Regions from separate parts of the Homo sapiens genome. Here region 1 is linked to region 2. Evidence: fine-mapped expression QTL. Tissue or cell type: whole blood. Region 2 holds a variant in brackets; the other region holds the start of a gene. All regions are shown on one strand. Distances are from middle to middle.

Region 1 (4,153 bases), 20 kb before region 2:
AGTCTATAGGAGGAAACATCTTGGAAGAAAATTAGGATGTAGATGAGAAGCAACTTATGGTCACTTCTAATTCCACTCCTATCCCCTGGCCACACATTCCATTCCTCTAAGGTGTCCAATCTATACACCCCTGCCACCACCCCTATCCCATCTCAGCAGGAGACAATATGTGAAAAGAAAGTTCTTCATTTTTCCTTCTTTTCCATTTCTTTCTTCCTGTCTTTCTTTCTTTTTTTTTTTTTTGTAACAGAGTCTCGCTCTGTCGCCCAGGCTGGAGTGCAGTGGCGCGATCTCGGCTCACTGCAGGCTCCACCCTGGGTTCACGCCATTCTCCTGCCTTAGCCTCCCGAGTAGCTGGGACTACAGGCACCCGCCACCTCGCCCGGCTAATTTTTTGTAGTTTTTAGCAGAGACGGGGTTTCACTGTGTTGGCCAGGATGGTCTCAATCTCCTGACCTCATAATCAACCCGCCTCGGCCTCTCAAAGGGCTGGGATTACAGGCATGAGCCACCGCGCACAGCCCTTTTTTTTTTTTTTTTTTTTTGAGACAGAGTCTCGTTCTGTTGCCCAGGCTGGAGTGCAGTGGTGCAATCTCGGCTCACTGCAACCTCCACCTCCTGGGTTCAAGCAATTCTCCTGCCTCAGCCTCCTGAGTAGCTGGGATTATAGGCAAGCACTACCATACCCAGCTAATTTTTGTATTTTTAGTAGAGACGGGGTTTCACCATGTTCGTCGGGCTGGTCTCGAACTCCTGACCTCGTGATCCGCCCACCTCGGCCTCCCAAAGTGCTGGGATTACAGGCATGAGCCACCAAGCCAAGCCCACTCGTTTTTCATTCTTGATATTGACAGACTGCCCAGAGACAGACAGGAGTGGGTAGTGAGGGTCAGAAGGATTAAGGAGCTTGCCTAGCCGATGAGGAAGGGAACAAGATAAGATGCAAACCTCAGTCTCTGACTCTCAGCCAAGTGCTCACTACCCCAACTAGCTGTCAAATGAGGTGGATGGGGCCTTGGTTAGGTACATAGACACCTGAGTCATATCAACCTGGTGTGAATCCCAGCTCTGATGTTGAGCGATTGGCCTAGCCTCTCTCTGCCTCCATTTTCTCTTTTTTCATTTCATTTTTCTTTTTTGAGGCAGAGTCTCACTCTGTCACTGCCTCTGTTTTCCATAGCAAAATGGAGTTAATAATGCTTACATGAGGGATTAAAACGAAGACAATGCCTACCTAATGCTTAGAATGGTGCCTGGAACATAGGAACAATGTTGAAACAGTCTTTCATTCTTCCCTCCTATCACTGTGATCATCAGTACCACCACACACTGCTTCTCATTTAGTGCCTGAATTTTAGAGCCTGCCTGGAGGCTGGAGCCCTGCCTGGACATTTCCCTTAATCTTGTTATCCTCCTCAGAGAGGCGGCACCCACCCCATTGGCAGACGCCACGGGAATTCTCTGGGCCTGCTTGTCATCACTCCAGATGTTGTTTAGAGTTCTTCTGTTAGCACAGCTGTTTCTAGGGTCTGGAAAAACTCTAAGGACCCCCAGGAGGATACACACCAGATTGGGTCTGGGCTCACACCACCCTGCATCCCCAGAGCCTCCCTGGACGCTGTTTGCAAGGTCCTCACCGCCTGGAAGTCCAGGAGCCATTTTTAGGGAACAGCATTCAAGCTCAACATGGCAAGTTCCCTCTTTCCTGCAGGGGAGGACCAGAAGGGAGCCGGAGATGGGGGAGAAGGGTGGGAGGTGGATGGTTTGGAAAAGGGATGGAGACCCAGACGGAGAGAAGCCAGCCAGCCAGGGTGAGGGAACAAGCTGCTGTGCTGCCCAGGAGAGGCCTGGCCTCAGGCTGCCAGCCTCAGGGAGGTAGATGCGGCTGTGACAGCAGCAAAGAATGACGGCCAAGGGCGACAGCAGGGGCTGGCCATGCTGTAAAGGGGCTTCTTGGGAGGGTCCAGCCTCAGGAATCAAGGGGAACTCCTGAGCCGAGAATTCTGAAGATCTCCTCCCTCCCTGAAGCTGTGGGCTGGGCCATCGGAAAACTTTCAGTTTTGTTTCCTTGCCTGCAAGAAACGAAACTCAACCGAAAGCCTGCAGAGAGCAGAACATGGAAGGAGACTTCTCGGTGTGCAGGAACTGGTAAGAAAGTGCTTTCTCCAGCGGCAGACCCGGGCTGGCGAGGGAGAGACGTAGACGACATAGGGCTGTTTCTGAAGGGAGCAGAAAGTGGTTCCTGCATAAGAACACTTAGGAGGACAAGCAGCTGGAGACCGTGGGCCCCAAGGGTAGGAGGGTTTAAACTTGGTAATCTCTGGGTGGGGGTGGGCAGCATTACCTCCACTTCACTGCAGCCCCTTTCCCCCAAATGTTAGGCTTTCTGGGACAGTTCTGAAGCCAAATAGCCCGGCCAGTGGTCCCAACTGGGCTACTCATACTTGTGAGACCTTGGGTCCTAATTTGGGGTTCTGATACTATGACCTTCACACCCATCTGTGAAAGAAAGTGTCCCACGGAGATTCTCCAGGACTACTCTCACCCTCCTTGGAAAGGGAGCCGTGGGGCGGGGCAGGGGGGACAGAGCAGGGGGCTGGGACCACACCTCTAACGGGAGGGGGGGCGCGGAATCTGACCGATCAAAAAGCCCCATTCTCAAAGCTCCCTACCTGTGACAGGGACCTGAGTGGACCCTCCCCAGAGAGCTTTGCTCCAGCCAGACCCTTCAAGTACTCTGGTTTCTCAACCAGCCCAGGAAGAGCAGGGGGAGAAGGGGCCAGGTCAGGCAGAGGAGAGAGAGCAGAGGAAGGGAAGATGATGCTGCCTGTGTGCCCGCTGCCTGGGCAGAAGAGGAGTGAGGCTTTGACAGTCCCTCTCGGAGCACGTCCCCTGTGCCAGGAACATGGGCATGTAACTCTTCTCGTCCCCTGGGCCTTTACGGCTACAGCCACCCCATTTCCCTTCTCCCAAGCTGCCACAAGCAAGAGCTGATGGAAATGAAAGGAGTCATTTCTTTCTTTCTTCTTCTTTTTTTTTTTTTTTTAAGATGGAGTTTCGCTTCTTTTTGCCCAGGCTGGAGTGCCTGGAGTGCAATGGCGCGATTTCAGCTCACTGCAACCTTCATCTCTCGGGTTCAAGTGATTCTCCTGCCTCAGCCTCCCGAGTAGTTGGGATTACAGGCGTGCACCGCCATGCCCGGCTAATTTTGTATTGTTTTAGTAGAGATGAGGTTTCACCATGTTGGCCAGGCTGATCTCTAACTCCTGACCTCAGGTGATCCACCCGCCTCGGCCTCCCAAAGTGCTGGGATTACAGGCATGAGCCACCACACCCAGCCAAAAGGGGGCACTTCTTGGCAAAAAGGACGGTTAGAGAAAAATGCCCTGCCCAGGAAGTGGGAGGCTCAGAACCCTTCCTTCACTGTGGTCTCCAGGAAGAACCTCGGAGTCTCTGTGAGTTAGCGCAGGTGAACCTGAAGGCAGGGGAGACTTGGGAAGCTCTCGCTTTGGAGATTTTGGAAGTTGGCATGGCCCTGGCAGGAAGCGTGAGCCTAGCAGGGCTGCGTTCCTAACACTGTGGACCAAACAGGGGCACCAGAAAACAAGAAAAAAGATTCAAGAGAATTTGGCACTTCTCTCAAATTATTTAAATTGAAATAATTTAATTATTTACATTATTTAAAATGAAATGTTTCATTTTAAAAACAGCCTTATAGAGGTATAATTGACCTACAATAAACCTCACATTTTAAAGGGTAGCAATTGATAAGTTTTGGCCTAAGTTATATACATCCATGAAACACCATCCCCGTAATTGAGATAATGAAGCTTCCTGTCACCCCAAAAGCTCCCCATGCCCCTTTGTAATTCCTCCCTCCTGCTCCTTCCCATGCCCTGCCCCAGCAATGTAAGAGCTCTGTAGATCATCCTTATTCTTATTAGATGCTGCCTCACTGTTCTGACTTTTGGACCCACACAGGGAGTGTGGGGCAGGTGGTGTCATCATCATCACATGTTCAGTGCTTAAGGCCTCTGGAGATCTAGCCCTGGGTATGAAATACAGCTCCATGTTTTATAATATGAAAATAAGTCTATTTTTCTATCCCCACACCTTGACCCTGTAGTAAAAGACATGTAGTCTCTGCCAACTT
Region 2 (4,350 bases):
GTAAGTGGTACTGGGATAACTAGCTAGCCATATGCAGAGGATTGAAACTGAACCACTTCCTTACACCATATGCAAAAATCAACTCAAGATGGATTAAAGACTTAAATGTAAAACCCCAAACTATAAAAACTCTGGAAGATAACCTAGGCAATACCATTCTGGACATAGGAACGGAAAAAGATTTCATGACAAAGATCCCAAAAATAATTGTAACGAAAGCAAAAATTGACAAATGGGACATGATTAAACAGAATTACCATTTGACTCAGCAATCCCATTATTGGTTATATACCCAAAGGAATCTAAATCATTCTGTCATAAAGACATATATACACAAATGTTCACGGCAGCACTATACACAATCGCAAAGTCAGGGAATCAAACTAAATGTCCATCAGTGGTAGAAAGGATAAAGAAAATGTGGTGGCAGGGAGTGGTGGCTCATGTCTGTAATCCCAGCACTTTGGGAGGCTGAGGCGGGTGGTTCACCTGAGGTCAGGAGTTTGAGACCAGCCTGGCCAACATGGAGAAACTCCGTCTCCGCTAAAAATACGAAAATTAGCCAGGCGTGGTGGCGAGCACCTGTCATCCCAGCTACTTGGGAGGCCTAGGCGTGAGAATCGCTTGAACCTGGAAGGTGGTGGTTGCAGTGAGCCGAGATCCTGCCACTGCACTCCAGCCTGGGCAACCAAGCGAGACTCTGCCTTAAAAAAAAAAAAAAGAAAATGTGGCACATATACACCATGGAATACTATGCAGCCATAAAAAAGAATGGGATCATGTCCTGTGCAGCAACGTGGATGGAGCTGGAAGCCATTATCCTAAATGAACTCACTCAGAAACAGAAAACCAAATACCACATGTTCTCACTTATAAGTAGAAGCTAAACATTGAGTACACATGGATACAAAGAAGGGAACCGCAGACACTGGGGCCTACCTGAGGTCGGAGCATGGAAGGAGGGTGAGGATCAAAAAACTACCTATCTGGTACTATGCTTTTTATCTGGATGATGAAATAATCTGTACAACAAACCCTGGTGACATGCAATTTACCTATATAGCAAGCCTACACATGTGCCCCTGAACCTAAAAAAAAAGTTAAAAGAAAAACGTTTGGATTATTTTCCCTCTTTCGAACAAAGACATTGGTTTGCCCAAGGACTACAAATAAACCAACGGGAAAAAAGAAAGGTTCCAGTTTTGTCTGAAAATTCTGATTAAGCCTCTGGGCCCTACAGCCTGGAGAACCTGGAGAATCCTACACCCACAGAACCCGGCTTTGTCCCCAAAGAATAAAAACACCTCTCTAAAAGCTGCTCTTCCACCTTTCTTTGGGTTCCGCACTGGTTTTCCAGGGCCAGGAATGGCAGCAGCCAGGACCCCAGGATAAGGGCAGTGCCCAAGGAAAGGGGAGCAGAAGACATTCAGGGAGGGGGAAAGAAATGAGGCTGGGACAGTGGATAAGGGCCAGGTGAAGGGGAGAGGGGCGGCTTCTGAAGGCTTTGGGCAGGGAGAGTGGCTGGGGGAAGCCTAGTAATGCAACCTATCCAGCGGCGGCTTCGGAAAAAACCCGGGGCTGGGTCAGGATGGGAAAGGCAGCGAACTGAACCGTTTTGAGCCCCAAGTTCGGGGCCGAATGTCTTCCCTGTGCGCAGAAGCAAGGGCGGGGGCGTGCCATCCTCACCCGGAGCGCCGGCCGAGCCTCCCGCCTCCCAACGCCTGGCCAGGGCCCCGTCTCGCCCTCTGCACATGGGATCCACTGACCAGGCAACTGCAGGTTTGGGGCTCTGCGACCCGGGGGCAGGAACAGAGCCTTGCAGGCGGCAGCGCGTCACAAAGGCGGCCGGAGCTTGGCATTTAGCTTGGGCCAGAGCAAGGCGCAGACCCGGGGCGCCCATGGAGTTGGCGTCGGAGCAACAGCTGCGCGGGCGGAGCAGGTAGGCGCGCTCCAGTCCCTGCAGCCCGAGCGGGGTTCAGCGAACGGGTAACGGGAGAATGCGGGCCGGAGCAGGCTGGGGTGGCGGTGGGATGCCCCGAGGCCCGCGGCGGGGAGGCGGGCTGCTCTCATCACCCCCTCTGGGAAGCATCTTTGGCTGCAGGAGTTGCCAGGCCAACTCCCCCTCCCGCGGTGGGTAGGACATCTTTAGATTTCCCTCCCTGGTTGGCAGCTGTGTG[A/T]TATGGTGGACCAACCCTGGGTTCGAATCCTATCTCCCCACTTACTACACGTTCTCCCTGGGAAACTTTATTCACCTTCCAACACCTCCGTTTCCGTATTTGTGAAATGGATGTGTTTGTATTCCTATCTTCCTTGGCGGGACGTTGCAGAAGTACCTCGGCACCAACTTTCTTATTAATGGCAGCCAGCTCTTGTATAGCGTTTACTACGTGGCAGGCACTCACTGTTCCCGGTGCTTTCCAGGTATCAGCTCACTTAATCCTCCCAACACTAAGAGAAAGGCACTATTATTACCCCATATACAGATGTGAGGATTCACACATAAAGAAATTGACTTGCCTAAGGTCATCCGACTGTAATGGGCATAGCTAGGATGCAGCCCACTAAGCTACACTGCCTCTGATGGGGTCTCGGGGGGTAAGGGGAGGCTCCCAGTCATTAAATAGAATTTGGAGTCTCCTTACAGCAACTCTTCCAGACACACATATTCTTCCAACCCCACCCTTACAGCACCAGTGTCTGATGACTTTTCCTGACCTACAACCTTGCTAGGCCAAAAGGTTTCATGGAGCTTTTATTTACTTATTTATTTTATTATACTTTAAGTTCTGGGATACATGTGCAGAACATGCAGGTTTGTTACATAGGTATACATGTGCCATGGTGGTTTGCTGCACCCATCAACCTGTCATCTAGAATTTAAGCCCCGCATGCATTAGGTATTTGTCCTAATGCTCTCCCTCCCCTTGCCCGCCACCCCCCGACAGGCCCCATTGTGTGATGTTCCTCTCCCTGTGTCCATGTGTTCTCATTGTTCAACTCCCACTTATGAGTGAGAACATGCAGTGTTTGATTTCCTGTTCCTGCGTTAGTTTGCTGAGAATGATGGTTTCCAGCTTCATCCATGTCCCTGCAAAGGACATGAACTCATTCTTTTTTATGGCTGCATAGTATTTCATGGTGTATATGTGCCACATTTTCTTAATCCTGTCGATCATTGATGGGCATTTGGGTTGATTCCAAGTCTTTGCTTCGTGGAGCTTTTAAACTGGTTTATCTCTTCTGCAGCACCTTTTAGGAGCTTTGCTTGGTGGTGAGTGCTGTGGAGATCCCTAGCCTTGGGCAGTTTGCAAGTGATTGAAGAGACCTATTTCTTCATTTGTTAAATGTTTAAGTACCTTCTCAAAAGCAGAAGGAGGTTGTCAAGGGGTGTGTGGGTCCCTTGGGAGAGAAAGGCAAGGACACAGATTATACAAAGAGGGGCACTGGCAAGAGGTAGCAGAAGGAGGCAAGCTAAATACGGACACAGCCATGCTGGGAACCACTAGGGCGCCACGTCATGGGCGGGACGGGCTGCTGTTCAGTCCTTTACGGAAGTCTGTTCGGATGTGGCGGTGGGAAGGCCAGCTGGAGACAGGGGCCAAATCAGTGAGTGGGTGGTGAGAGAAAGTGATGGCGTAGTGAGGACAAAGCCTGGAGAAGGTCCCTAGGGAGGCCCACAACTGTGCTTACTTGAGGATGCTCACTGCCACTGTGGTGTTGGTGGGAGCTGGAGGAGACTTGGGGTCCATCAAAGGAAAGAGGATGGGAGACAGGCAGGATACCTGCCATGGGTTCTATTCAGCTGCTAGACGCAATGGGTGAAATGTACACAGAGCCACAGGAATAAGTCCGACAAACAGTAAGTACACATTTGGCAAGCACACATACAGACAAAAAGACACACGTCAAACACACTTGAACAGTTGCCTATGGTGGGGGCAACGGAATGGGACAGAGGGTTAAAATGGAACACATGAATAAATAAAACTAGAGAGGGGTCTTGCACAGACGAATAATGTCAGTCCTGAATTGGGAAATGTGATTCACTTGCCCCTGCACCCTTGTGGTCCAAGAGGTGGGGACAGGAAAAAAAAGTACAGAAGAAAGAGTCAAAAAGCCCAAGTTCCAGTCTGGGGCCCGATACTAACTTGCTGTGAGACTATAGGTGAGTCCCTTCACCTCTCTGGCCTTCAGTGTTCATCTGAAAAGAAATCAATTCTCAGGTCTCTTTCCAGCACCACAATTTTATGAGCCATGATCAATAATCTTGGGTTTATCTGGTAAAGTAGTCAGTGAGAGCTTTAAGGAGTGGTAGGGCTTGAACTTTGAACAATGGGGGTTTGGGAGGGG

The links. PIP is the estimated chance that this variant, and not a neighbour inherited with it, causes the effect.
Region 1: XAF1 starts here. The variant in region 2 is fine-mapped to the expression of XAF1 in whole blood (TOPMed, PIP above 0.99).

What each region holds. Positions count from the first base shown.
Region 1 is chr17:6,753,963-6,758,115 of GRCh38, forward strand. XAF1 (XIAP associated factor 1) reads left to right here and starts at 2,084. Exons shown (of 7, transcript NM_017523.5): 1 at 2,084-2,148; 2 at 4,127-4,153. The coding sequence starts at 2,117. RefSeq lists an enhancer at 1,741-2,260.
Region 2 is chr17:6,774,334-6,778,683 of GRCh38, forward strand. XAF1 (XIAP associated factor 1) reads left to right here. Exons shown (of 7, transcript NM_017523.5): 7 at 1-1,314. It overlaps FBXO39 (F-box protein 39), which reads left to right and starts at 1,882. Exons shown (of 4, transcript NM_153230.3): 1 at 1,882-1,939. LOC124903905 (a long non-coding RNA gene) reads right to left here and starts at 1,777. Exons shown (of 3, transcript XR_007065594.1): 1 at 1,687-1,777. The variant A/T (reference allele first, on the strand shown) is at 2,178.